Regions from separate parts of the Homo sapiens genome. Here region 1 is linked to region 2. The links come from fine-mapping of genetic effects on gene expression. A gene starts in region 2. The other region holds a variant in brackets. All regions are shown on one strand. Distances are between the middles of the regions.

The links. PIP is the estimated chance that this variant, and not a neighbour inherited with it, causes the effect.
Region 1: its variant is the best candidate, but not a certain one, in a credible set for the expression of KLRB1 in whole blood (INTERVAL, PIP 0.76).

What each region holds. Positions count from the first base shown.
Region 1 is chr12:9,652,920-9,666,024 of GRCh38, forward strand. It overlaps the pseudogene LOC374443. Among named protein-coding and RNA genes, the nearest start is that of CLEC2D, 10 kb to the right of the region's middle. The variant C/T (reference allele first, on the strand shown) is at 8,860.
Region 2 is chr12:9,601,098-9,615,692 of GRCh38, forward strand. KLRB1 (killer cell lectin like receptor B1) reads right to left here and starts at 6,819. Exons shown (of 6, transcript NM_002258.3): 1 at 6,658-6,819; 2 at 404-502. The coding sequence starts at 6,742.

The DNA.
Region 1 (13,105 bases), 51 kb after region 2:
CCTGTAGCTTTGCCAAATTCATTTATTCTCATAGCCATTTGGTAGATTCCTTAGAATTTTACATGCAGACAACTGTGTTGTCTGTGAATAGCAATGCTTTTATTTCTTTCCAATCTGTATGACATTTATTTCTTTTTTCTTGCCTTTTTGCCCCTAATAGGACATCCAGTAAAATGTTAAATTGGATTGGTGAGAGAGATCAGACATCCTTGCCTTGTTCTATGTCACTGGGGGAAAGCATTTATTCTTTCATCGTTAAGGTTGTTGCTAGTTGTAGTTTTTCTGTAGATGCCCTTTATCAGGTTGAAGAAAGTTCTTCAATTTCTAATTTGTTGAGTCTTACTATCGTGGATGAATATTAAGCTTTTCACATCCTCTTGCTGCATTTATTCAGATGCTCATATGTTGTCCCTTGTCTCATTCTGTCAATATGGTGAATTACATTGATTTATTTTCTGCTTCCCTTGTTGCTTCTAACCAGCTGCTTTACTATGGGGCTAAATCTGGATTGTGTATGTTTCTTTTTCATCCCAATTTCTACTCTTTTTCCAGTAACTGGAAGATTCCCTGGGGGTGGGGAGAATTCGATTTTTATCTCTAGCCCTCTTTGGGCCATTATTCTCATTTATGAACCAAGCCCTTTTGTGAAAGGAGTTGGCAGTAGGAGAATTGAAGTACATCTGATCTTAGTGTTGATTCTATGATAAATTTTTTCTCCCTACGATATTCCTGAGATTGAGATTCTGATGTTTCTATTTTACAGATAAAACTCTGCAAAGACAATGTCTAGCACTTATATCTCCAGTAACTCCTGTCAAGGTTTATTGTTGCTTGTTCATCATTGCAGTCCTGACTACAAGTGTGATTGCACTTTCTATTGTTTTGTCAGGTAAGTTACTTGTTCTCCAAACTGTACAATATTCTCCATATGTTTTTGTTGTCAATAAATATTTATTAAGCTCCATTATGTGCCTGTCACTGTGTGAAATGCTTGAATTACATCAGCAAACAAAATACACACAAAAGAATTCCTGCCCTTTGGAACTTATATTCCAGCAGAAAAACACAAGTAAAAATAAATAAGGGTGGAGGTATAACAGGTTGCAATAGGTTGACAAAACTAAGCCTTCTTAGGAAGGTGACATTTCAGCAACCTTTTGAAAGAGATGGAGGAACCATGTGAAGGAACCTATTCCAGGCAGAGAACAAGTAGACCAAAGCCTGAAGGAGGACTCTTCCTGGCTTATTTGAGGAAGAGCAAGGAGGCTGCTGTAGGTGAAGCAAAGTGAAGATGGAGAAGAAGAGTGATACCATGGGGAATCAGGAACGGAGGAACCTTGAGGGTCAGTTAAAGACTTTGGCTTTGACCTTCAGTGCAATAGGGAGACTAGATGAGGGAAGTTGTACGAGAGGAATGTCTTGATGTGACTTTCATTGTAGAATAATCATTTAATTGCTATATTGAGACTAGGTAGGGGAGGGTGGTCAGACTCTGGATATTTTGAAAGCTGAGCCAACAGTATTTTATGTCAAATTGGATAAAACGTCTCAGAGGAATGTCAAAGGTAAGCCTGTCTTCTTTTGAGCCTTGGCAAGAATGCATTTGCCGTCCATTGATATGAGAAAGGCTATGGGTATAGGAATTCCGCTTACGGAACTATTTCCTGACAAGTTCCTCTCAGAATTGTCATTTTTTATTAAAAATAAAGTAAGATCTCTACTTGAAATGTTTTCAGGCAAATCACCTGGCCTTAAGAGCTGGTATCTTCTACTTAAGCAGATTGAGAATGCACGAAAGTACAGAGAACTGTATACATAAAAAAATCATCTCTTGTATAGAGGTAATAGGTCCTCAGCATTGCTTTGTCAAGAGAAAGAAGGGCTAATATGAGGGAGGATATGGAAAAATCATCCGTATGACCCTGTGAAAGTACAGTACTATGGAAGTCGATGCTATAGAAATTGATTTCCTTGAAACTGTTAGTGTCAGTGTAAATTTCAGAAAGTCAAGGGTGCAGATACCCAGCTGGAAACCACCGGACTGACGATTGTTGTGCTTAGGATAAGGCACTTTGTGATGAGTTAGGAAAACAACAATCAGATATGTACACTTCAAAATTGACCTCAGGAAGGTAAGCAGAAAAATAGATAAAATGGGTGAGAAAATTTCTTTATTATGTTTCATTGTGATTGTCTCACTTTTAGCAAGAAAGGAAAAGCCAGTGGTAGAGTCATCTAAATACGCTGCTTGCCCAAAAAGCTGAATTAGATTTAGGAGTAAATGTTTTTATTTTTCTGAAGGCATAAGAAATTAGACATTGAGTCAAACGTTCTGTGTCTCATTAGAAGCCAGCCTTGCTCAGTTTGCAACTATGGAGGAACTGGTAAGAGATATTTTTGGATCATGTTTTCTGTTAAATACTTAGCCCCCTGAGGCAGGTCGGCTACATAGGGTTAAAGCTGAAATACTAAGAAGGATCCCATTCCAGGGGCATGAGATGTGTTTTCATGTCTAACATTTGTTGAGGGTGTGTTCTCTGCCTGGAACCCTGTGAGACATTTTAGATATATTTCCCCATGTAATGCTCATGGTGAGCTGGTAAGATGAGATGTATTGTTCTCATTCTATTAAGAAGTAAGGTAATTATATAATTTGTCATCTAGATTAAGACATATAGGGCATTAAAAGTGATCATTAATACATTGGTGGAATGACAAGCATAAACTGAGAATTTCCCAATGAAACTGGGATTTATGCTCACTTTAAATAAAGTAATTTAGGATCAGAGACGTTAAATGACTTAAACTGAGAACTGGGAATTAGTCTCACTCCAGAATTTATGCTGCTTAATTATACCACGCTGCCAGTGAAAAAGAGAAGGGATAGGGAAGAGAGACTCCAGAGTAATATGAAAGAAAGGGGCTCATGGTGTTAGTTTCTGTTTTATTATAGAATTTCCTGAAAAGATACAAAGGCCCTTCTGACCATTGGATTGGCCTTAGAAGAGAATCATCCCATCGCATTTGGAAATGGACAGACAACATGGAATATAATAACATGTATGTTTTGAGACTTCTCATCTTTTGCTGTGTTTATGTATGGTTATGTGTGTGAGTTGTGTTTATGAGATAAGAAATGTAGTATCATGGAAAACTTACTGCAATATGAGGTAAGAAATCTAAACCCTTTTTATGCTCTTCAGTTGGTTAGCTGTGTCTTTGGGAAAGCTTTACCTGTGATTTCAGTTGAAGTCTTTAATGTGACAGTGACATTTCTCACAATTTTACACTTTCATCCACTGATTTAAAACTGCTGAAATCCCTACTTATAGCTGATGTGCAACAAAGGTTCTACAATCATAGGAAGCCACTGAGGAGCTGATATCCACAAGGCTGTTAAGCCCACTCTTGCAGGTGTTGCATCCATTTACAATAGGAAAGCATCCAGGGAACTCATGGGAATCTCTCCCTCCTAAAGCTTTATCACCAGAAGGAAACTAGTAACAGTTCCTTGGACTGTGAACATTTCAAAGGGGTATTTTGAATATAATCATTACATTGCAGCAGATAAAATGTAGGAACCCAGTCATATCCATTAATCAAAGCTAAGCCCTTTCAGGAATTTACTAGTTTTTTTTTTTTTTTTAGTTTTCACACATTTACAAAACAATTTGGGAGGAGGCTGGAAATCATCTTGACTGAAGACCACCAATGGCAGCAGTTCATTTGGGTACAGCAGCAAGCATCAGTTAAATACCTATCAACATAGCTGGGCTTGGTATGGATGAATGATAAGCTTGTGATTTTCAAGCAAGGACCTTGAGGACATAAAGGACACTAAATACAGAAATGGTTTATATTACTATGAAGCAATATTAATGACAGACTTTTGCTTTTCTCTTATTCACATTGAAATATGGAGGGGTTGCAGAAGATGATGGGGAGGAACAAATGCAGGTGTCTAACTTACAAATATTTAATATTTTTGTGTTTGGATTTAGGCTTGCTATCAGAGGAAGTGGAGAATGTGCCTTCCTGAATGACAATGGAGTCAACAGTGGCAGAATCTACATGAACAGAAAATGGATTTGTAGCAAGCCAAACAATTATGTCTACAGTTGCCAGTTATGTCCCCACTGGGATACTACCTAGTAGAGCTGTGAGAAGAGGGCCACCATCCTCCAGACTCCAGAATGGTGGAATCAGCAGCAGCTTCCACCATGCCCCTGGAAAAACTGCAAGTAACAGACCTGCACATGTATCCCCTACATCTAAAATAAAAGTTGGAAAAAATGGAACTTTGATGTTAAGATGCACTGATACAAAACTTAAATTTTGGTCTCCTACATTAAAACAATATGAGTCTCTTAAAATATTGATTTGTTCTTAGTAAGATTACAAGAGGCTTTGATTTTTAATTCTGCAATGTTTCCTTAACAGCCATTCTGAATTACAAACTAATTCCTATTTCTGCCACATTCCTTCCTGAGAACTGTCTAGTCCTGGTTTGGGATTTATCTTAAAGGTCTAGAAAGGCAACATTTTACTTCAGCAAAACTTGATTCTATATTGTTGTTTTTTCTTAATGTGTCAAAATTGTTTTGTTACTAGGATTTCCTATGTTGTTATTAAATGTATTCCCCTGATCAAGGTCACTGGCCTAGAAAACAAAGATTCTGTGTTTTACCAAGATAATTCCCAGTGCTTCATGGTGTCTTTATTAGGCTTTGACTGCTTAGGGAAACTGAGCCTTAAAAGGGTAAAAGTTTTTCCATCCATGTAACTTTCTGAGGTCTTTAGGTTGTCACTCTGATTAAATGAGTAGTATTCTTAGCAGTGACTTATTATCTGTTGAAGGAAGTATTTTAAGCTTTTTGACATCTTTGGCAGGTTTCTCTAGAATCCAAATCCTAAATTAAGCCTTTTGGCCTAAAAATGACTGGGATTTTTCCAGGTGGACCCCCTAGATATGCTCCTCCAAAGGCTTGTCTTTCTTGTAGAGTTATTAAATGATTAGGCTTATTTGGCAAATACTGCTAGAAGCATTGTCAAATAAGAAATGGTGTTTTACCTTTCTTTAAGCTGTGTTTGTGTAAGTTCATCATTTATAGAAATGTGAAATTTTATGAGATTCCTAAGATACTGACATGCTGAGATACCTGTAATAATTGCAATTTTTATGTTGGATGATTGTATGCCACAGAAGCACTTAAATTTCCTGGTTAATTGGTAACGTTAATCAGATCTTTACCTATGGCTGTTCTGGGTTTTTGTCATTCACAGTTATTATTTTAATTTCTTCTTTGGAAGCGTTCGCAATCAGCTATAGTCCAAAATTGCTAATTAAGATCAAGCAAAACAAAATTAATTACGTAAAATTAATTTATAAGGATGTTTTTATGACGTAAATGTTTTATTTTCCAGAGCCAAGGAAATTTTCTGTCACAAGCTATCTACCGTTTGCAATAATTTGATAAATAATCCTTTGTGAACAAATATGGAAGCATTTGCTTTTTCTCTCTACTTGATTCCTTCAAAATTCAGAAACTATTTGTGGATATTTTTAGTTTTATTTATACAACTTCAGTAAAAATCCACTCTCTCTTTATAAGCAGGATCCAGTTGGAAACATTATTTATATTGCTAAGGTTTGGCTTGAAATGTCATATTTCAGAATGTGCATAGAGGCCAGGGGTGGTGGATCACACCTGTAATCCCAGCATGTTGGCAGGCTGAGGTGGGTGGATCACTTGAGGCCAGGAGTTTGAGATCAGCCTGGTCAAAATGGTGAAACCTCATCTCTTCTAAAAACACAAAATTAGCCAGGCATCGTGGCACACGCCTGTAGTCCCAGCTACTCGAGAGGCTGAGGCATGAGAATTGCTTGAACCCAGGAGGTGGAGGTTGCAGTGAGTGGAAATCCCACCACTGCACTCCAGCCTGGGCGACAGCATGACACTGTGTCTCAGAAAAAAAAAAAAAGTGCGTAAAATGCCTTGCTTCATGAGTTCCCAGCTTTACAGGGAATGAGTAAAAATTGTCACTTTCTGGCAGGTTCAAGAACCTTATTATAAGCAAAATCCAAAGGCTGCTTTGGTTTGGTTTCCTAGCCTCAAGAGGTTCTAAAATCTAAGATCTCCTACATCATCAACGGGAGAGAAAAATTATGCTTCTAAGGAAAGCAAAGTTACACCTGTTTTTAGATTTTAACCCTGTACATTGTCTTCAAGTCCTTGTTATCTGCCTGTGGACTGAACTAGATCCTGAATTCTCCTAAGTTCCTCCAATATTAGGTTATAACAGTCCTGATGGAGTCCCCCAACCCTCTTGCCTCGATCCTGACTAGGGATGCTCCAGGGACATTCAGGTGACTTCCCCTTCTTAAAAATCTGACCAGCTAGGGACATTAGATACCAGAATTGGGAACAAACTAGATCCATAAGATACTATGGTCAGTAATGAGATCTTATTGGTCAGTGACTTTTTTTTTTTTTTTAAATGGAGTCTCACTCTGTCACCCAGAGTGGAGTGCAGTGGCATGATCTCAGCTCGCTACAACCTCCCATCTCCCGAGTTCAAGTGATTCTCATGCCTCAGCCCCTCAATTAGCTGGGGTTACAGGCATGTGCCACCACACCTGGCTAATTTTTGTATTTTTAGTAGAGATTGGGTTTTGCCGTGTGGGCCAGACTGGCCTCTGGCCTCGAACTCCTGACCTCAGGTGATCCACCTGCCTCGGCCTCCCAAAGTGTTGAGATTACAGGCATGAGCCACTGCACCTGGCCTGCTCAGTGACTTCTAACATTGCTGCTGTACCTGGGTAAATACTTCCAGTCATATTTAAGCGGGCTTGGAGTTGGCAAAATCTCTGAGAGAGACATCTTCGGAAAGCCTCCATGCTGGACTTAGTGGATAAAGTTTCCAATGTCCAGATATTTTCAGCTGGTTTCTCCTTGGTATAGGATTTCTTCTGCATTCTACCCTGCACATCTTAATGATAACCCTCATATTTTGGCTAAGCATTTGACTCCCCTTTAGAATTGTTCTAACTTGTTTTTAACAGATGTCTACAAGAGATTCCCACCAGGATCCTGCCCATGCAATCTTTGAGACTTTAAACTCACTCCAGCTGGAAATAGGAACCAACTTAACCCAAGAGACTTTGGTTCACATTTAACCAGTACTTTCCTGAATGCCTCTCCTAAGTAAATGGCTCTAGTTTCTCTATTGGCCACTGCACTGCCACTAGGATTCCTGCAAGGGATCCGATGGGCCCAGAGCAGGTAGCCAACCACTTCTCTGTTGGATGGAATGCAATGCTGTTTGCCAGCATGTTTGAGCCAGTCCTTCAAGATGGATTCTGAGTGACTAACTGGACCTAAATTTAAATAGCACAAAGCAGCCATTTGCTAACTAGATTTCATACAAATGCTCTGAGTTCCTGGAAAACCCACACTCCTTAACTTTGGGACTTTCAAGACTCACCTAAATCAATCAATTAAAGCTCACTTGTGTCAGCTAATCAGGGATCAGCTGTATTGACTAATGAAAACTAAGCGAGTTTCAAATTTTAACCATTTATTTGTGTAGAAGACTTGATTGGGAGCCTGGGTATGAATACTTGCTATAAAATCTGAGCATTCCCTTTGTTCTCTGGAGCAAACAATGTTAAGTTGTTAACTCTCTGTACCTTTCTCTAGAACTGGATGGAAACAACTCCATCTGAAATGCAGCCCTAATACCAGGGAACTCCTACAGTAAAGCGCTAAACAACTTTATTACTCTAACCAACGTTTATGTCCCTAATCAGCAAGAAGTAGTTAGAATGGTCATCATCCCTTTCCCTCAAGATTGAGGAATGGACATAAAAAGGAGGGGATTTGTAACTGCTCCAGACTGATCTGTTGTCAGAAAGGGGCTCTTGAACCAGACCATGAAAGAGGGTTCTTGGATCTCCTGCAGGAAGGAATTCAAGGAGAGTCACAGAGTGTAGAGAGAATAGACAGTTTATTGAAAGCTACTCAGTTACAGAGTAGGGCATCCTCCAAAAGCAGGAGGAGGAATGTGCTGTCTTTGTTTTAAACTCTTCTTTTATAGGGGTTTAATCTATGTAAAACCTAAGCTATGTCTACATGTGGGTAGGCTGTCAGTGTGACAAAATTTAGTATTTTGTTGATATAAAGAAACTTATCCTTGTCATCTTAGTGCATAAGTACATCAAAGTATGACTTTAGCTACCTTAAAAGCATGTATTGTTATGTGATATTGGGACATCTGGACATTCTGCTGTCGTAGGAGTTTGTCCTTGCAGCATTACTAAATCGCTTCCTTAGCTGTAAACATCTTATAATCGTAGGTCATAACTGTCAAGGAAGTGCCTTGCTAGTTTTTAGATGGAGTTGATTTTAAAATAGTGTCACTCTGGCTTTCCTATGCTCCTGCTTTCCTAACAAATCTGGTTCAACTTTTTTTTTTTTTATTCAACATAATCTTTTTTTTCCATGCTACCTCATTTACAGAGTGCTTCCTATAGATATGGTTGGTCTGTATGTTTCATTTTTCAGCTTTGATTCTTATTTTTTTGAATCACACATGCTTTATGGGGGCTTCCACTACCATGAGCCATATTTTCTGTATTACCAGCAAGATGTTTGGGTTTGTTTTTTGTTTTCTTTATATTTCAAATTTTATTTTAGATTTAGGAAGTACGTGTGCAGGTTTGTTAACATGGGTGTATTGCATGACGCTGATCTTACAATACCAATGATCCCATCACTCAGGTAGTGAGCATAATATCCAATAGGTAGTTTTTCAGAACTTGCCTTATCTTCCCTCTCTCCCTGCTCTCTTAATTCGAAG[C/T]CTATTTTTCCTATCTTTATGTCCACATGTTTCCAGCATTTAGCTCCCACTTATACGTGAGAGTATGTGGTATTTGTTTTTCTGTGTCTGCATTAATTTACTTAGGATGATGGCTTCCAGCTGCATCTTTTGTTGCAAAGGACATGACTTTGTTCTTTTTTATGACTGTGTAGTATTCCATGGTGTATATGTACCACATTTTCTTTATCCAGAACACTGTTGATAGGCATCTACATTGATTCCATGTCTTGGCTATTGTGAATAGTGCAGCAATAAACATGCATGGTTCAACTTTTATGGTAACAAAGCTGTGAGTTGTTCTTCAGTTGTCATGGACCCTCACTCAGGTCATGTAACCTGAGCATGGACAGGTGAAACAAGTGTGCAACCACAAGGGAAACCTAATCATTCAGACTGAGGTACAGGGACCGAATTAAGAGGTGGACACAGGATGGCAGGATCCAGGATCCAACTGGATAGAACTCAGGCATCACTTCATGGCAGGATCCAGTCAGATCTTGCCTCCCAGCATCACCTCATTGCAAGATCCAATCAGATTATTCCTCACTACCCTATGCTTATAAAACCTGACCCACCTCCCAGCTTGGCGAGGTACTACTTTGGGAGCTTTGTCCAGTGTTCTCTTTACTTTCTGTAAGAACAAAATCTCCTTGCTAAATCCACCTTGTCGGTGGTCATTGGGTTGATACCTGCCAAGTGACTGAACCCACCTGTTGTGTGGGTAACATTTAGAACATATTTTCCATTTCTTTATTTTCCTTGACTGTCTGCATTGGTGTCTGTGCACCAGATAAAACAGCTTCCTTTCCAGTCTTCACAGACAGGTCTCAGATAGGACAACACCTTTACCAATCAGTCCAGACAGAGGTTCTGGGTGCCACTTAAACCTTCCTGGTAGTTGAAACCACAATGTTTGTTCTTAATGGTCCTCAGGCATCTAGAGTATGCCAGGCCCTTCCAGTGCTCTCAGATACATGAGATAAAATCCAGTTCCTCAGGTAGCAGCCAGAAAAGCTGGGGTGCTAGTTATTTGGTCTGTCTCCTTTGCTTTTCAGAGAGAAGCTGGAAGCCAGGCTTTATCACTGCACTGAGCCAAAGTGGGGAGCAGGGGGAAGTGCCCACATGCTTATTAAAAACCGCTCTGAAAATATTTGAAGTAACAGGGCTATAACAATTATTATTTTAAAAGCAACTGCTGTTTTGGTTTGTGTAGCCCCAGAGGTTTAGCAGATGCTGGGCCCTGTCAGCTCACCAAAACAGGGAAATTAGAAACCAGTCTATCTGGTAGTATCTAGAGAAGTTGTGATACCAGATAGGTGGTCCAAACCCTTCACTCCTCAGGGATAGACTAAGAGATGGGAGTTCCTTCCCGATCATATGGCATTGTATTAGGGTTGGGGGTTATGATCACAGTGTGTGCAAGTTTTTTCCTATCAGTTTTGATGTGGATAGTTTCACACTCACCTAGGGTACAGGAGTGGCTCAGTCAGTTTCTGGATTTCCAATGATGGGAATTTGCCTCTGTGTTGCTGTTGAATTGATGGTGGGGAAGGAGAGTTTAGGGCCTTCTATTCTGCCATCTGTGACTCTGACAGTTTCTTTTAATGTTAAACTATCATACAGTCTAGTTACTACATTTGTAGACATTTCTCTCGCACAAATGACAACTTATATTTACACAAAAGCCTGTATATAAAATGTGCATAACAGCTTTATTCATAATAGTCAAAACTTGTAAACAACTGTATGTCTCACAATGGGTGAAAAATTAAGTAAATTCTGTTATAGGCATACAGTGGATTACTACTCAGCAATAAAAAGGAATGGGCTATTGATACATATAACAACTTCCTTGAATCTCAAAGTACTTAGGCTAAGTAAGAAAAGCCAATTACTGAAGATCGCATTCTGTGTGATTTAATTTACGTAACATTATTGAAATGACAAAATGGTATAGATAGAGAATGAGGGTTATGGATGGGTGAGTGGAGAAGAAGGGGCAGTATGGAGAAAGGGTGGTGTGGCTCTCCGTCGTGATGGAAGAGTTTCGTTTCCTCATTGTATCAATGGCATTATCTTAGTCGTGATATTATAGTGTAGTTTTTTAGATGTTACCATTGGGAGAAACTGAGTAAAGAAGATGTGGGATCTTTCTTTAGTATTTCTTAGAACTGCATGTGAATCTACAACTAGCTCAAAATAAAAAGTTTAATTATAAAATAAAAGCTACATGAAATGAAGCAAAAAATAATTCACCCTTGTCACGCACACAGAGTCAGAGACTGTAACATAATTTGCAGGATCTAGAGCAGAATACAAATGTAAAACATCTTGTTAAAAAATTATTAATAATTTTGAGACATTGATAAAGCATTAAGCCGCCTGTGGGGCCCTTTAAGCATGATAAACTGTGCTACCACACAGATTGCACATTCACGTATCTGGCCCTGCAAATGGAATGATTTTTGCCCATGATCAATTCACCATGGCCTCTTTGGGCTCAGTGAATTTGCTTCTTCAGGAGGGTAATTTTCTCTTCTTTCTCTGCTAAGCTGTTTAACAGTAGTTGCCCTGCCTAATGGGCTTCATCCATCCATTTCTCTCAGATTATTTTCATGATGCACTAGGATGAAGCACACCCTTTCTCCTAGTCTTGAGGAAACGTCGATATTCAGAATATTTAAACGCAGGCACTGACCAATCAGAAGAGTTTCTGGCCAACGTTCCACACTTGAGGGAAATGACATTATCTGAGCCCTGAAGAAAAACGTTGTAGATATTCTCCAGATCAAAGCATCGACAGGAAGATTTTAGATGTTGAAGTTCGTAATATTTCCTAAAGCAGGTATGAATTACTAGTAACTTAATAGGTATATTAACTGATGAAGTTTTCATTTCTCAGAACAAACCAGTCAAGGAAGGTGCTATTATACTCCTTTTATTCATATAGATCTTGAGGCTGAGACAGTTTAATCAATATGCTATAATTATTGTGTAATAATAAATTACCATAAACTAGGGGTGCTATGATCTCAATATTTGTATCTCCCACTCCCAAATTCACATGTTGAAATCCTGACTCCCAAGGTGATGGCATTAGGAGATGAAACCTTTGTGAGGTCATTAAGTCATGAGGGTAGAATACCGATGAATGGGATTAGTGCCCTTACAAAAGGGGCCCACCAAAGCTGCCTTGTTCCTTCTACTATGTGAGGACACATCTAGAAGTTACCATCAATGAACCAGAAAGTGGGCCCTTACCAGGCACCAAATCTGCCAGCACTCTGATCTTGGACTTCCAGCCTCCTGAACTGTGAGAAATAAATTTCTGTTGTTTATAAGTTACCCATTTTATGGTATTTTGTTACAGGCACATGAACTAAGACAAGTGGATTAAAAACAACACAAATTATTATTTTACTGTCTAGAAATGAGAGGTTCAAAATGGCTAAAGTCAGGGTGCCACTGATAGGGCTGCATTTCTTTTGGAGGCTCTAGGGAAGAAGCCGTTTCCTTGCCTTTTTCAGCTTCCAGAGGCCACCTGCATTCCTTAGCTTATGGTCCCTTGCTACAGCTTTAAAGCCAGCAGCACAGCACCTTCAAATCTCTCTCTGACAGTGACATTCCTGCCTTCCCCTAATAAAGACCCATGTGATTAGATTAGGCCCACCTGGATTATCCAAAATAATCCCTCTGTCTTTAGACCCTTAACCATATGTGCAAAATGTCTTTTGTCATGTAAAATAACATCCTTACCTCAAGGTTTTGGGAATTAGCTTATTAATGTCTTTAGGGGGTCATTATTCTGCTTTCCACATACATTTAAAATTAACTATCAGGCTACAAAAGTCATATATGAATTGAGCTTGTTTTGCCCCAAAGGCTGTGTTCTTTTTTTATTTTTTTTATTTTTATTTTTTGAGATGGACTCTCACTGTTGCCCAGGCAGGAGTGCAGTGGCACAATCTCGGCTCACTGCAACCTCCGCCTCCTGGGTTCAAGTGATTCTCCAGCCTCAGCCTCCCAAGTAGTTGGGATTACAGGTGCGCACCACCACGCCCAGCTAGTTTTTGTATTTTTAGTAGAGACAAGGTTTTGCCATGTTGGCCAGGCTGGTCTCCAACTCCGGACCTGAGGTGATCCACCTGCCTCGGCCTCCCAAAGTGCTGGGATTATAGGTGTGAGCCACCACACCCTGCCAGCTGTGTTCTTTTACATCATAATA
Region 2 (14,595 bases):
GATGTTTATGTGTATGCATATCTAAAAGCACAGCACTTAATCCTTTACATTGTCTATGATGCAAAGACCTTTGTTCACGTGTTTGTCTGCTGACCCTCTCCCCACAATTGTCTTGTGACCCTGACACATCCCCCTCTCGAGAAACACCCACAAATGATCAATAAATACTAAGGGAACTCAGAGGCTGGCGGGATCCTCCATATGCTGAACGCTGGTTCCCCGGGTCCCCTTATTTCTTTCTCTATACTTTGTCTCTGTGTCTTTTTCTTTTCCAAATCTCTCGTCCCACCTTACGAGAAACACCCACAGGTGTGTAGGGGCAACCCACCCCTACAGAGATGCTCTAAGATACGTAATGGAAGTAGAGTAAGTATTATGAAACAGATGATGGTGCCCCACTTACCTGAAACACTCAACCCAGTAACAACCAAGACAAGGAGAATAATCCCAGCACAGCTAAGTTTCAGGGCAAATTGATGCCAAGGTGAACCCTGACAGACATCTGAAAAGTTAAAAAGAAAAACACAAAAACAAACAAACAAACGAAACAAAAAACCTTGGTTAACTCAGTGGAGTACATCTGGCACAAAAATGTACTTGGGATAACATAGGGACAATTAGATTCAGCTTGGGGGATGGGGGCAGGGAACAACCTCTATCCATCATTCTAAAAGTAGAGTCCTGCAAGATGGGTTCTCAGATCCAACAGAGTTTGCTCATTGATAAAATATGAACGCTTATGCATGTGTGTATACAAAGGATTGGTGTAAGAACCAAATGAGATAGATAGAAAGATGTTTTGAAAATTGCCAAGTGCTATACAAAAATTAAGTGCATGTCTTAATGTATGAAGTAAGTCAAAGCATTTTGTCCAAGAAGGAAGACCTTCATTTAGTCAAGATATTTTTTGAGGCTCTCTCTATTTTGTGCCAAGTACCATGTTAGGTGCTGGTGGTATACAGAAATTCTATTCTTGGACATGGAATCCTCTGCTTTGCTGTTGTCTAGAACAATCATCTCCAAGTTGGGTCTAAGCCAACTTGGGATCCCAAGCCATCAAGGGATAAGGTTTTGTGACTGCATACCTTTTTCAATATTATCACTAGTATAACATAACATGCGCTTATGTCTACAACATCGCATAGTCTAAACCAAGTGTCAGATATCTCTGCTTTTCTCTGTAATCACATCAATTACTATATAATGAATCTCCCATGTTCTTCAAAAGTTATGATTATATTGATGAAATGTTATAAATTAATCGCAACTTTATCAATGTATTTTGCTCTGTATCTTTGAAAACATGAATTAATAGAAAAAAAATAAAGAGAGATTTATAAAAATATTTTGGAGAAACACTGGGATATAGCTTCCAAAATTAAATCAACTCTGATAAGGAATTATTCTGGTAGTATATTGCTCAGTTACACTGCTAGAAGTTGTGCCTAAATAGCTCCCCTATCTCTGATTTAATTGTAAGTCTCCCTCTGCTCTCATTTGGTTTTTAACATATTAGATATATTATAATTATAAATTACTTTATAAATTCTATTATTAGAGCTAGGAGCTTTTATGAATAAAGGCTTTCTAATTTATCTGAAGCTATTGATTTATTTGTATTGTCTATTCCTTTTTATTTTTTCTAATATTATTCCATGTAAGTGATTACTTGCTATGAGTTACATGTTAAAAAATTTAGCATCAGATATACTATAATATTATCCTTTAGTCTCTTTATATGTTTCAGAACGGCCATGAAGCCATTTCTACTTTTAATGGTACAGTATCCTTGAGGATTAAGTTGTGCAGTCCAGTTTGCAGACCTGATAATCTCTCACATTAGGATGCTCACACTGATATAAGTGAATCAGCTCTCTCTAAAACGGCCCTGAGGAGATAGAATTTAGTAGCGTTAGATGTGATCAAAGATTATGGGAGGAACCATAATACACTGGGGTCAGGGTTGTAACATATGGATTATCGTCTGGTACTATTTAGGACATGCTGTATCAGTGGAGGGGGGCAGGGAGGAGTAGATACCTAGAGGAGACTCCAAGGCCCCAGGGATATATCTGAATGTGAGGAAACCAAGCTTGGTAATATTGGCCTAGAACTTCTAATGAGAGCTGGTGTGATACAAGAATGTCTACATGCAGTCAATAAGCCCAAGACAGCACTGGCATGGCTTTCCTTCCAGTTTTATATATGTACGTTATTTCACCTTTCTGTCTCTTCTCTTCCCCACCGTTTTCTTCCTTGAAACTCTAAGTTTGTTTGTCTAGTGGAGAAAGCTCTGTATAGTCACTATTTTAAGTGTTAACTTAATTCTATTTATTTATTTATTTATTTTTGAGACGGAGTTTCACTCTTGTTGCCCAGGCTCATGGTGCAATCTCAGCTCACCGCAACCTCCGCCTCCCAGGTTCAAGCAATTCTCTTGCCTCAACCTCCCGAGTAGCTGGGATTACAGGCATGCGCCACCATGCCCGGCTAATTTTGTATTTTTTTTTTTTTTTTTTAGTAGAGACGGGTTTCTCCATGTTGGTCAGGCTGGTCTCGAACTCCCAACCTCAGGTGATCCACCCGCCTCAGCCTCCCAAAGTGCTGGGATTACATACGTGAGCCACCGCACCCAGCCTAATTCTATTACTAACATGAATTTAGTAATTTTCATTACTAAAGGCTAACATTGATTAAGAACAGTCTTTCCGATCTAGCAAATCTGAATGTGAACATGTTATTTTGGAAAATACGTTCAACCTTCATAACCCACAGATTTCCTCATCTGTGAAATGTGGAATATTATCTATGTCATAATATTTTGGAGAGGATTATATGAAACAATTCTTCTAAATGCTGGGCACAGTGTCTGGCACATGGTAACTGTTCAATGAACAGCAGTTCTTTTTTTCTAAAAGTTGTTTTTTTTTTTTAACTATAGGTAAAAGGCAACTTGGTGACTTTTAAAAATCGTTATTCATTCATGCTAAAATGTAAGGAGTTGAGTGGAGTGTACTGTGTCTGGGAGGAATGTACTCCTGTACTGTGTTTCTGTGGCACCACGTGACATTAGAATTAATGAAGTTACAATGAATCACTACAGGGGTCCGGCGGACGTTAGCTATCTGGAAATACCTACCTATGGCTGTTCTCCATTTGAGTTTAAAAAGTATGTGAAATCATCTCATTTCATTATTCTAAACCTTCCAATGGCTTTTCATCAGGCAAATCTGAGTCTGTAGAATGGCTCATATGTCCCTATTTAAGCTGGCGCCCACTTCTGTTGGATGTTATCACTCACATCTCTCTGGTTTTGTTGACTGCCTTAGACACAATCACCATGCTACAGAGTGACCATAGCCTCAACAGTTTAGCCAGAGTCCAATAGTGGTTTCACATTTTGCCCTCACCCCATCTGGCCTCCATACGCTCACTCTCCACGCAGATGCCTCCTACAATACCACAGGCGTGTTTTCATTTCGATGTGTTTGCACTTGTTGGTCACCTTCCTAGAAGGCTTCTCTCTCAGGGGCTTATGTCTTTGTCCCTCACTTCTGTCAGGTTTTGACTCAATGTCATCTTCTCAGGGAGGCCTTCCTTGATTATTCTGTTTGATATGCTACCCTCCCCGAAAGTTAAATCCTATATTCAAATCTTTCTCAATAACATTAACACCGTCTCATCTTTTATACTGACTTAGTTATTTGTTTATTTTATTGATGGTGTGCCTCCATTTTTTTAATTTTTATTTTTTATTATACTTTAAGTTCTAGGGTACATGGGCACAATGTGCAGGTTTGTTACATATGTATACATGTGCCATGTTGGTTTGTTGCACCCGTTAACTCGTCATTTACATTAGGTATTTCTCCTAGTGCTATCCCTTCTCCCTACCCCCACCCCACAACAGGCCCTGGTGTGTGATGTTCCCTGCCCTGTGTCCATGTGTTCTCATTGTTCAATTCCCACTATGAGTGAGAATATGCGGTGTTTGGCTTTCTGTCCTTGTGATAGTTTGCTCAGAATGATGGTTTCCAGCCTCATCCATGTCCCTACAAAGGACATGAAATCATCCTTTTTTATGGCTGCACAGTATTCCATGGTGTATATGTGCCACATTTTCTCAATCCAGTCTATCAATGATGGACATTTGGGTTGGTTCCAAGTCTTTGCTATTGTGAATGCTGCCGCAATAAACATACGTGTGCATGTGTCTTTATAGCAGCATGATTTATTATCCTTTGAGTATATACCCAGTAGTGGGATCACTGGGTCAAATGGTATTTCTAGCTCTAGATCCTTAAGGAATCGCCATACTGTCTTCCACAAGTGTGCCTCTATTTTACTATAAACTCTATGAAGGAAAATAATTTTCTCTATTTTGTTCACTGCTGTATTCACAGCATGCCTGGTGCAGAGTAGGAGCTTATTTTTTAATGAATGAATAAACTCTAGGGGCATTTTTGCAAACACCTTATCCACTTTTCTAACAGACCAAACCCTTGGCCATTTGGCCATAAGCAAGATCGGTTATCACTCACATCTCTCCTTCTGGTTTTGTTGACTGCCTTAGACACAATCACCGTGCTTGCTACAGAGTGACCACAGCCTCAGCAGTTTAGCCAGAGACCAATAGTGGTTTTACTGTCATTCAATATCAGACCAGTGTTCTATAGTCACATATTTTGCTCTGGCTTTATTCTACTCTTATTTTTTCTTCAGGTTTACTCTCAGAATGACATTTTATAGGATAATTATTACAATCCAAGTAGAAAAAATTTCTGCATCCATTGGTTTGGGATCATAGCAACATTTGGGAAGAGTCTCACTACCTCTATATTCATTTTCTGACAAAAGCCCACTTTCCACCTTTTGCTAGATATGAATAGAGGAAAAGAAAGACTTACTCTTTTCTTTAAAAAAAAATGTTACTCAACCAAATCCTCCCTATAGTTATTAGAACCCTCTGATTTCCTCTACTCTTATGTGAAAATTATACTGAAACTTAATTGACGGCTCTAAGACTTTCTTCTTGACTTAAAACTTTGAGAATTCAATAGTTTAAAACTTAAACAGTCTTAAAACAGCACAAGTCAAATGCTTGGCATGACATGGAATGAATATCAGATTGGTAAACAATTGTAATATTATCAATGATAGTAAATTCAGTTAGATATCAGAAAATAATAATGTGTCATAATAATTTCATGCTGATTTTCTGCCTCAGTTTCTAGTTTCTTCCCATCCATCCACAGGCCATGCTATCCATCATGTGTTACCTCACATTGGTGTTCCCCGCTTCTTTCACTCAGAATGCTAACTCTTCAGAGACACAGGAAAGTGCCAGTTTCAACAAATGGTAAGTAGGTTCGTTACTGATATGCTCGAGTATTTTTGTGGCTTGTCTCTTTCTAAGCTGTGATACTTTTCAAACTAGAAACTATCAGGTAGTAATGATATTCAAATCTTTGATCTTGAATATGATTTTTTTTCCAGAAAGTGTTCCCCTCTCTTGAGAGAGTGAAGTATGTTACTCATTAAGCCTACACTTTATATATATATATATAAAATATATAAAATATATGTATAAAAAGTATATATATATATATAAAATATATAAAATATATGTATAAAAAGTATATATATATATATATATATATATATTTTTTTTTTTTTTTTGAGATAGTCTTGCTGTGTCACCCAGGCTGGAGTACAGTGGCACAATTACAGCTCACTGCAGCCTTGATCTCTTGGGCTCAAGCAATCCTCTCACCTCAGCCTCCCGAGTAGCTAGGACCACAGGCACGTGCCCCACACTTGGCTATTTTTTTGTATTGTTTGTAGAGATGAGGTTTTGCCACATTGCCCAGGCTGGCCTTAAACTCCTGGACTCAAGCAAATCACCTTAGCCTACCAAAGTGTTGGGATTACAGGCATGAGCCACTGCAACTGGCCTACACGTTGTATTCTGAAAGGAATATTATGGATGAAAATGCACTGGGACTTAATCATAGTATTGATATTTTGTAGAGGAATTTGGAATAACGTAGGTTGTTATTACAGCAAGTTTGCAATGTGTCTTAAATATTCCTTAGTTCATACATGTAAAATATTTTTCCTTCCTTCCTTCCATCCTTCCTTCCTTCCTCCTTCTCTTTTTCTTTCTTTCCTTTCCTTTCTCTCTCTTTCTTTTTCTTTCTCTCCTTTCTTTCTTTCTTCTTTTCTTTCTCTTTCTTTCCTTTCTTTCTTTCTTTCTTCCTTTCTTTCTTTCTTTCTTTCTTTCTTTCTTTCTTTCTTTCTTTCTTTCTTTTCTTTCTTTCTTTCTTTCTTCCTTCTTTCCATCCCTGTAGAGCAGGGGTAACCAATAGGCAGTGTGCCCAGGGTAGCCTAAAGTGTTCAGAGTCTTTTAACCAAGGCTCAGTAAGACAAGTGATGTTTGCTTTTCATGCTAACTTGATTGAAAAAAATAAATGTATGAGGTTTAAATTTTTTTTCCCAAAGTTGTGATTATCTACAGGCAAGCCATGCAACACCCGTTAAACATTAATATAAAACTACTGCTCATCTTTAAAGCAATGATTTAAAGCCATAAATGTAACAGGAAGATCTAATTCTGGAAGACATACAAATGCCGAAAGGAAAATTAAAGCCACTTACCCCGAGGAAGAGATGAAGGTGAAGAACTTTCTGGGCCTGAGTCTGTGGGTAAGTTTAACTCAGCATATATTGCTTGTTGGTCCATGGCAGACAGAGGAAGGTGGCATTAAACTTGTGTGTAAGAACAAACTCTCAATTCTGTGAGGCAAAATCAGCAAAAGGAAGCTTTCTGCCTGCAGTACTTTGTTGTCTCTCTTTTGTCCCCACCCACATACACTTTTTGTTGGTGGTTATCTCCATAAATTACTGAGACAATCCACTGACTGCATGTTCATTATACCTAGCTATGTAATATCTACTTTCCTTAATTAACTGGCCTGTTGTTTGAGAAAATTCTGGGAGGCTCATTTGTTCTTGTTTTTCTAACCATCCCTTTTGTGTTCCTCTCTCAGGGCCAGGACCAGAGTGAAGCAAATGAGGCATAGCCTGGGGTTCCAATTTAAGGGGCCCCCAACAAAACTCACTAATTAACAGAAATAATATTTAGCACAATTTTGTAAAAGTAAAAATTAATGCAAAAAAGTCCATAATGCTATTCAAAGGCTCTAAAATCTTCCTGAAATATCTGTGCTCCAAAGAAAGTTGTGAAATGTGAAAAATGGAAACATAAATGTGAGAAAGCCCCCTGAATAACACAACAGAAAAAGCAATGTGCTAAAGATCAGTAGCCTACTGTTAGCTTAGCTCTAAAGGCACTCTTGGATATGATAGCATTTTCACATAAGTAAAAGTATTTGGAAACTGCCAGAATTGTAGGAAGTGGAGTATATGGAATTTTTTATCTCTTTGAAAGACTTTCTTTTTTTTTCAAGGTGATTATAGTATGTGTCTACTTTTTTTTTTTTACCTTTTTTTATTATTATTATACTTTAAGTTCACAATGTACAGGTTTGTTACATATGTATACATGTGCCATGTTGGTGTGCTGCACCCGTTAACTTGTCATTTACATTAGGTATATCTCCTAATGCTATCCCTCCCCCCTCCCCCCACCCCACGACAGGCCCCGGTGTGTGGTGTTCCCCTCCCTGTGTCCAAATATTCTCATTGTTCAATTCCAACCTATGAGTGAGAACATGCGGTGTTTGGTTTTCTGTCCTTGCAATAGTTTGCTCAGAATGATGGTTTCCAGCTTCATCCATGTCCCTACAAAGGACATGAACTCATCCTTTTTTATGGCTGCATACTATTCCATGGTGCATATGTGCCATATATTCTTAATCCAGTCTATCATTGATAGACATTTGGGATGGTTCACGAGTCTTTGCTATTGTGAATAGTGCCACAATAAACATATGTGTGCATGTGTCTTTATAGCAGCGTGATTTATAATCCTTTGGGTATATACCCAGTAATGAGATGGCTGGGTCAAATTCTAGTTCTAGTCCCTCGAGGAATCGCCACACTGTCTTCCACAATGGTTGAACTAGTTTAGAGTCCCACCAACAGTGTAAAAGTGTTCCTATTTCTCCACATCCTCTCCAGCACCTGTTTTTTCCTGACTTTTTAATGACTGTCATTCTAACTGGTGTGAGATGGTATCTCATTGTGGTTTAGATTTGCATTTCTCTGATGGCCAGTGATGATGAGCATTTTTTCATGTGTCTGTTGCCTGCATAAATGTTTTCTTTTGAGAAGTGTCTGTTCATATCCTTTGCCCATTTTTTGATGGGGTTGGTTGATTTTTTCTTGTAAATTTATGTAAGTTCTTTGTAGATTCTGGATATTAGCCGTTTGTCAGATGGGTAGATTGTAAAAATTTTCTCCCATTCTGTAGGTTGTCTGTTCACTCTGATGGTAGTTTCTTTTGCTGTGCAGAAGCTCTTTAATTTAGTTAGATCCCATTGGTCAATTTTGGCTTTTGTTGCCATTGTTATTGGTGTTTTAGTCATGAAGTCCTTCCCATGCCTGTTGCCTGAATGGTATTGCCTAGGTTTTCTTCTAGGGTTTTTATGGTTTTAGATCTAACATTTAAGTTTTTAATCCATCTTGAATTAATTTTTTATAAGGTGTAAGGAAGGGATCCAGTTTCAGCTTTCTATATATGGCTAGCCAGTTTTCCCAGCACCATTTATTAAATAGGGAATCCTTTCCCCATTTCTCGTTTTTGTCAGATTTGTCAAAGATCAGATGGTTGTAGATATGTGGTATTATTTCCGGGGGCTCTGTTCTGTTCCATTGGTCTATATCTCTGTTTTGGTACCAGTACCATGTTGTTTTGGTTGCTGTTGCCTTGGAGTATAGTTTGAAGTCAGGTAGCGTGATGCCTCCAGCTTTGTTCTTTTGACTTAGGTTTGTCTTGGCAATGTGGGACCTTTTTTGGTTCCATATGAACTTTAAAGTAGTTTTTTCCAATTCTGTGAAGAAAGTCATTGGTAGCTTGATGGGGATGGCATTGAATCTATAAATTACCTTGGGCAGTATGGCCATATTCACAATACTGATTCTTCCTATCCGTAAGCATAGAATGATCTTCCATTTATTTGTGTCCTCTTTTATTTCATTGAGCAGTGGTTTGTATTTCTCCTTGAAGAGGTCCTTCACCTCTTTCAAAGATTTTCAGGCATAGAACCTTAGAGCAAGACCTTAGGTGGATTGGGTTCCAAGATGGCCAAATAGGAACAGCTCCAGTCTATAGCTCCCAGCGTGAGCGACACAGAAGATTGGTGATTTCTGCATTTCCAACTGAGGTACTGGGTTCATCTCACTGGGGCTTGGCAGACAGTGGGGACAGCCCATGGTGCAGGGTGGGGCATTGCCTCACCAAGGAAGCGCAAGGGATTGGGGAATTCCCTTTCCTAGCCAAGGGAAGCTATGACAGACGGTACCTGGAAAATCAGGACACTCCCACCCTAATACTGCACTTTTCCAATGGTCTTAGCAAATGGCACACCAGGAGATTATATCCCATGCCTGGCTCGGAGGGTCCCATGCCCACAGAGCCTTGCTCACTGCTAGCACATCAGTCTGAGATCAAACTGCAAGGTGGCAGCGAGGCTACGGGAGGGGCATCCACCATTGCTGAGGCTTGAGCAGGTAAACAAAGCTGCCAGGAAGCTCAAACTGGGTGGAGCCCACTGCAGCTCAAGGAGGCCTGCCTGCCTCTGTCGACTCCACCTCTGAGGGCAGGGCATAGCTGAACAAAATGCAGAAGAAACTTCTGCAGACTTAAACATCCCTGTCTGACAGCGTGGGAGAGAGTAGTGGTTCTCTGAGCATGGAGTTTGAGATCTGAGAACAGACAGACTGCCTCCTCTAGTGGGTCCCTGAGCCCGAGTAGCCTAACTGGGAGACACCTCCCAGTAGGAGCTGACTGACACCTCATACAGCCAGGTGTCCCTCTGAGATGAAGCTTCCAGAGGAAGGATCAGGCAGCAACATTTGCCGTACTGCAATATTTGCTGTTCTGCAGTCTCCACTGGTGATACCCAGGCAAACAGGGACTGGAGTGCACCTCCAGCAGCCTCCAGCAGACCTGCAGCTGAGGGTCCTGACTGTAAGAAGGAAAACGAACAAACAGAAAGGACATCCAAACCAAAACACCATCTGTGTGTCACCATCATCAAAGACCAATGGTAGATAAAATCACAAAGATGGGGAGAAACCAGAGCAGAAAAGCCAAAAATTCTAAAAATCAGAGTGCCTCTTCTCCTCAAAAGGAATGCAGCTCCTCACCAGCAACAGAACAAAGCTGCATGGAGAATGACTTTGATGAGTTGAGAGAAGATGGCTTCAGGCGATTGGTAATAACAAACTTCTCCGAGCTAAAGGAGGAGTTCGAACCCATCGCAAAGAAGCTAAAAACCTTGAAAAAAGATTAGACAAATGGCTAACTAGAATAAACAGTGTAGAGAAGACCTTAAACGACCTGATGGAGCTGAAAACCATGGCACGAGAACTACATGATGCATGCACAAGATTCAGTAGCCAATTTGATCAAGTGGAAGAAAGGGTGTCAGGGATTGAAGATCAAATGAATGAAATGAAGCCAGAAGAGAAGTTTAGAGAAAAAAGAGTAAAAAGAAATGAATGAAGCCTCCAAGAAATGTGGGACTATGTGAAAAGACCAAATCTATGTCTGACTGGTGTACCTGAAAGTGATGGGAAGAATGGAACCAAGTTGGAAAACACTCTTCAGGATATTATCCAGAACTTCCCCAACATAGCAAGGCAGGCCAACATTCAAATTCAGGAAATACAGAGAATACCACAAAGATAATCGTCAAGAAGAGCAACTCTAAGACACATAATTTTCAGATTCATCAAAGTTGAAATGAAGGAAAAAATGTTAAGGGCAGCCAGAGAGAAAGGTCAGGTTACCCACAAAGGGAAGCCCATCAGACTAACAGCGGATCTCTCGGCAGAAACTCTACAAGCCAGAAGAGAGTGGGGGCCAATATTCAACATTCTTAAAGAAAAGAATTTCATATCAACCCTGAATTTCATATCCAGCCAAACTAAGCTTCATAAGTGAAGGAGAAATAAAATCCTTTACAGACAAACAAATGCTGAAAGATTTTGTCACCACCAGGCCTGCCTTACAAGAGCTCCTGAAGGAAGCCGTAAACATGGAAAGGAACAACCAGGACCAGCCACTGCAAAAACATGCCAAGTTGTAAAGACCGTTAATGCTAGGAAGAAACTGCATCAACTAATGAGCAAAATAACCAGCTAACATCATAATGACAGGATCAAATTCACACATAACAGTATTAACCTTAAATGTAAATGGGCTAAATGCTCCAATTAAAAGACACAGACTGGCAAATTGGATAAAGAGTCAAGACCCATCATTGTGCTGTGTTCAGGAGATCCATTTACCTGCAGAGACACACATAGGCTCAAAATAAAGGGATGGAGGAAGATCTACCAATCAAATGGAAAACAGAAAAAAGCAAGGGTTGCAATCCTAGTCTCTGATAAAACAGACTTTAAACCAACAAAGATCAAAAGAGACAAAGAAGGCCATTACATAATGGTAAAGCGATCAATTCAACAAGAAGAGCTAACTATCATAAATATATATGCACCCAAAAACAGGAGCACCCAGATTCATAAAGCAAGCCCTTAGAGACCTACAAAGAGACTTAGACTCCCACACAATAATAATGGGAGACTTTAACACCCCACTGTCAACATTAGACAGATCAATGAGACAGAAAGTTAACAAGGATATCCAGGAATTGAACTCAGCTCTGCACCAAGCAGAACTAATAGACATCTACAGAACTCTCCGCCTCAAATAAACAGAATATACATTCTTCTCAGCACCACATCGCACTTATTCCAAAATTGACCACATAGTTGGAAGTAAAGCACTCTTTAGCAAATGTAAAAGAACAGAAATTATAACAAACTGTCTCTCAGACCACAGGGCAAACTAGAACTCAGGATTAAGAAACTCGCTCAACTACATGGAAACTGAACGACCTGCTCCTGAATGACTACTGGGTACACAACGAAATGAAGGCAGAAATAAAGATGTTCTTTGAAACCAAGGAGAACAAAGACACAACATACCGGAATCTCTGGGACACATTTAAAGCAATGTGTAGAGGGAAATTTATAGCACTAAATGCCCACAAGAGAAAGCAGGAAAGATCTAAAACCGACACCCTAACATCACAATTAGAAGAACTAGAGAAGCAAGAGCAAACACATTCAAAAGCTAGCAGAAGGCAAGAAATAACTAAGATCAGAGCAGAACTGAAGGAGATAGAGACACAACAAAACCCTTCAAAAAATCAATGAATCCAGGAGCTGGTTTTTTGAAAAGATCAACAAAATTGATAGACAGCTAGCAAGACTAATAAAGAAGAAAAGAGAGAAGAATCAAATAGACTCAATAAAAAATGATAAAGGGGATATCACCACTGAGCCCACAGAAATACAAACTACCATCAGAGAATACTATAAACACCTCTATGCAAATAAACTAGAAAATCTAGAAGAAATGGATAAATTCCTGGACACATACACCCTCCCAAGACTAAACCAGAAAGAAGTTGAATCCATGAATAGACCAATAACAGGCTCTAAAATTGAGGCAATAATTAATAGCCTACCAACCGAAAAAAGTCCAGGACCAGACAGATTCACAGTCACATTCTACCAGAGGTACAAAGAGGAGCTGGTACCATTCCTCCTGGAACTATTCCAATCAATAGAAAAAGAGAGAATCCTCCCTAACTCATTTCAGGAGGCCAGCATCATCCTGATACCAAAGCCTGGCAGAGACACAACAAAAAAAGAGAATTTTAGACCAATATCCCTGATGAACATCGATGCAAAAATTCTCTATAAAATACTGGCACACCAAATCCAGCAGCACATCAAAAAGCTTATCCACCATGATCAAGTTGGCCTCATCCCTGGGATGCAAGGCTGGTCCAACATACACAAATCGATAAACGTAATCCATCATAGAAACAGAACCAAAGACAAAAACCACATGATTATCTCAATAGATGCAGAAAAGGCCTTTGACAAAATTCAACAGCCCTTCATGCTAAAAACTCTCAATAAACTAGGTATTGATGGGACGTACCTCAAAATAATAAGAGCTATCTATGACAAACCCACAGCCAATATCATACTGAATGGGCAAAAACTGGAAGCATTCCCTTTGAAAACTGGCACAAGACAGGGATGCCCTCTCTCACCACTCCTATTTAACATAGTGTTGGAAGTTCTGGCCAGGGCAATCAGGCAGGAGAAAGAAATAAAAGGTATTCAATTAGGAAAAGAGGAAGTCAAATTGTACTGGTTTGCAGATGACATGATTGTATATTTAGAAAAGCCCATTGTCTCAGCCCAAAATCTCCTTAAGCTGATAAGCAACTTCAGCAAAGTCTCAGCATACAAAATCAATGTGCAAAAATCACAAGCATTCCTATACACCAATAACAGACAAACAGAGAGCCAAATCATGAGTGAACTCCCATTCACAATTACTTCAAAGAGAATAAAATACCTAGGAATCTAACCTACAAGGAATGTGAAGGACCTCTTCAAGGAGAACTACAAACCACTGCTCAACGAAATAAAAGAGGACACAAACAAATGGAAGAACATTCCATGCTCATGGATAGGAATAATCAATATCGTGAAAATGGCCATACTGACCAAGGTAATTTACAGATTCAGTGCCATCCCCATCAAGCTACCAATGACTTTCTTCACAAAATTGGAAAAAACTACTTTAAAGTTCATATGGAACCAAAAAAGAGCCCACATTGCCAAGTCAATCCTAAGCCAAAAGAATGAAGCTGGAGGCATCACGCTACCCGACTTCAAACTGTACTACAAGACTCCAGTAACCAAAATAACATGGTACTGGTACCAAAAAAGAGCCCTCATTGCCAAGACAGTCCTAAGGCAAAAGAACAAAGCTGTGGATGAATAAGTGGTTTTTACTATCACTTTTGCCCACCTTTTCTTCATATCAGGTTAAAAAATGAACAAATAAAATTTACAGACACAACTAATGGCATTTTTCCCTTTACTTTTTACCAGAGGTAACATCTAATCTGAAGTTAGTGCAGAGTATTTGCAGGCATGTTCTGTCTGCTTTTATTATAAATATTTATTGCTAGATGAGACCTATTTCATGTAATTTTTTTCTTTTCATGGCATTCAAAATCCAAGCTCCTTGACCACTTGTTTTAGAATGTTATTTGCTTCAGAGAAACTCTCTTACTTTTACCACCATCCGGAACACCACAACCATCTTTGCAAAATCAGCAAGAATTTACCACTTCCTTTTTTTCTGAAGACACAGCTTGTATCTTACCTTTGTCGTTGCTAGGTTTCTATTATGCGTTTGTATTTTATATTTAACATTTTGGTATAACCCTCCCAACAAATAATGTGGAGCGTAACATAGTAGATGTTTTCTGAACAGTAACTGAATGACTGAATTAGAGTCTCACATGACTC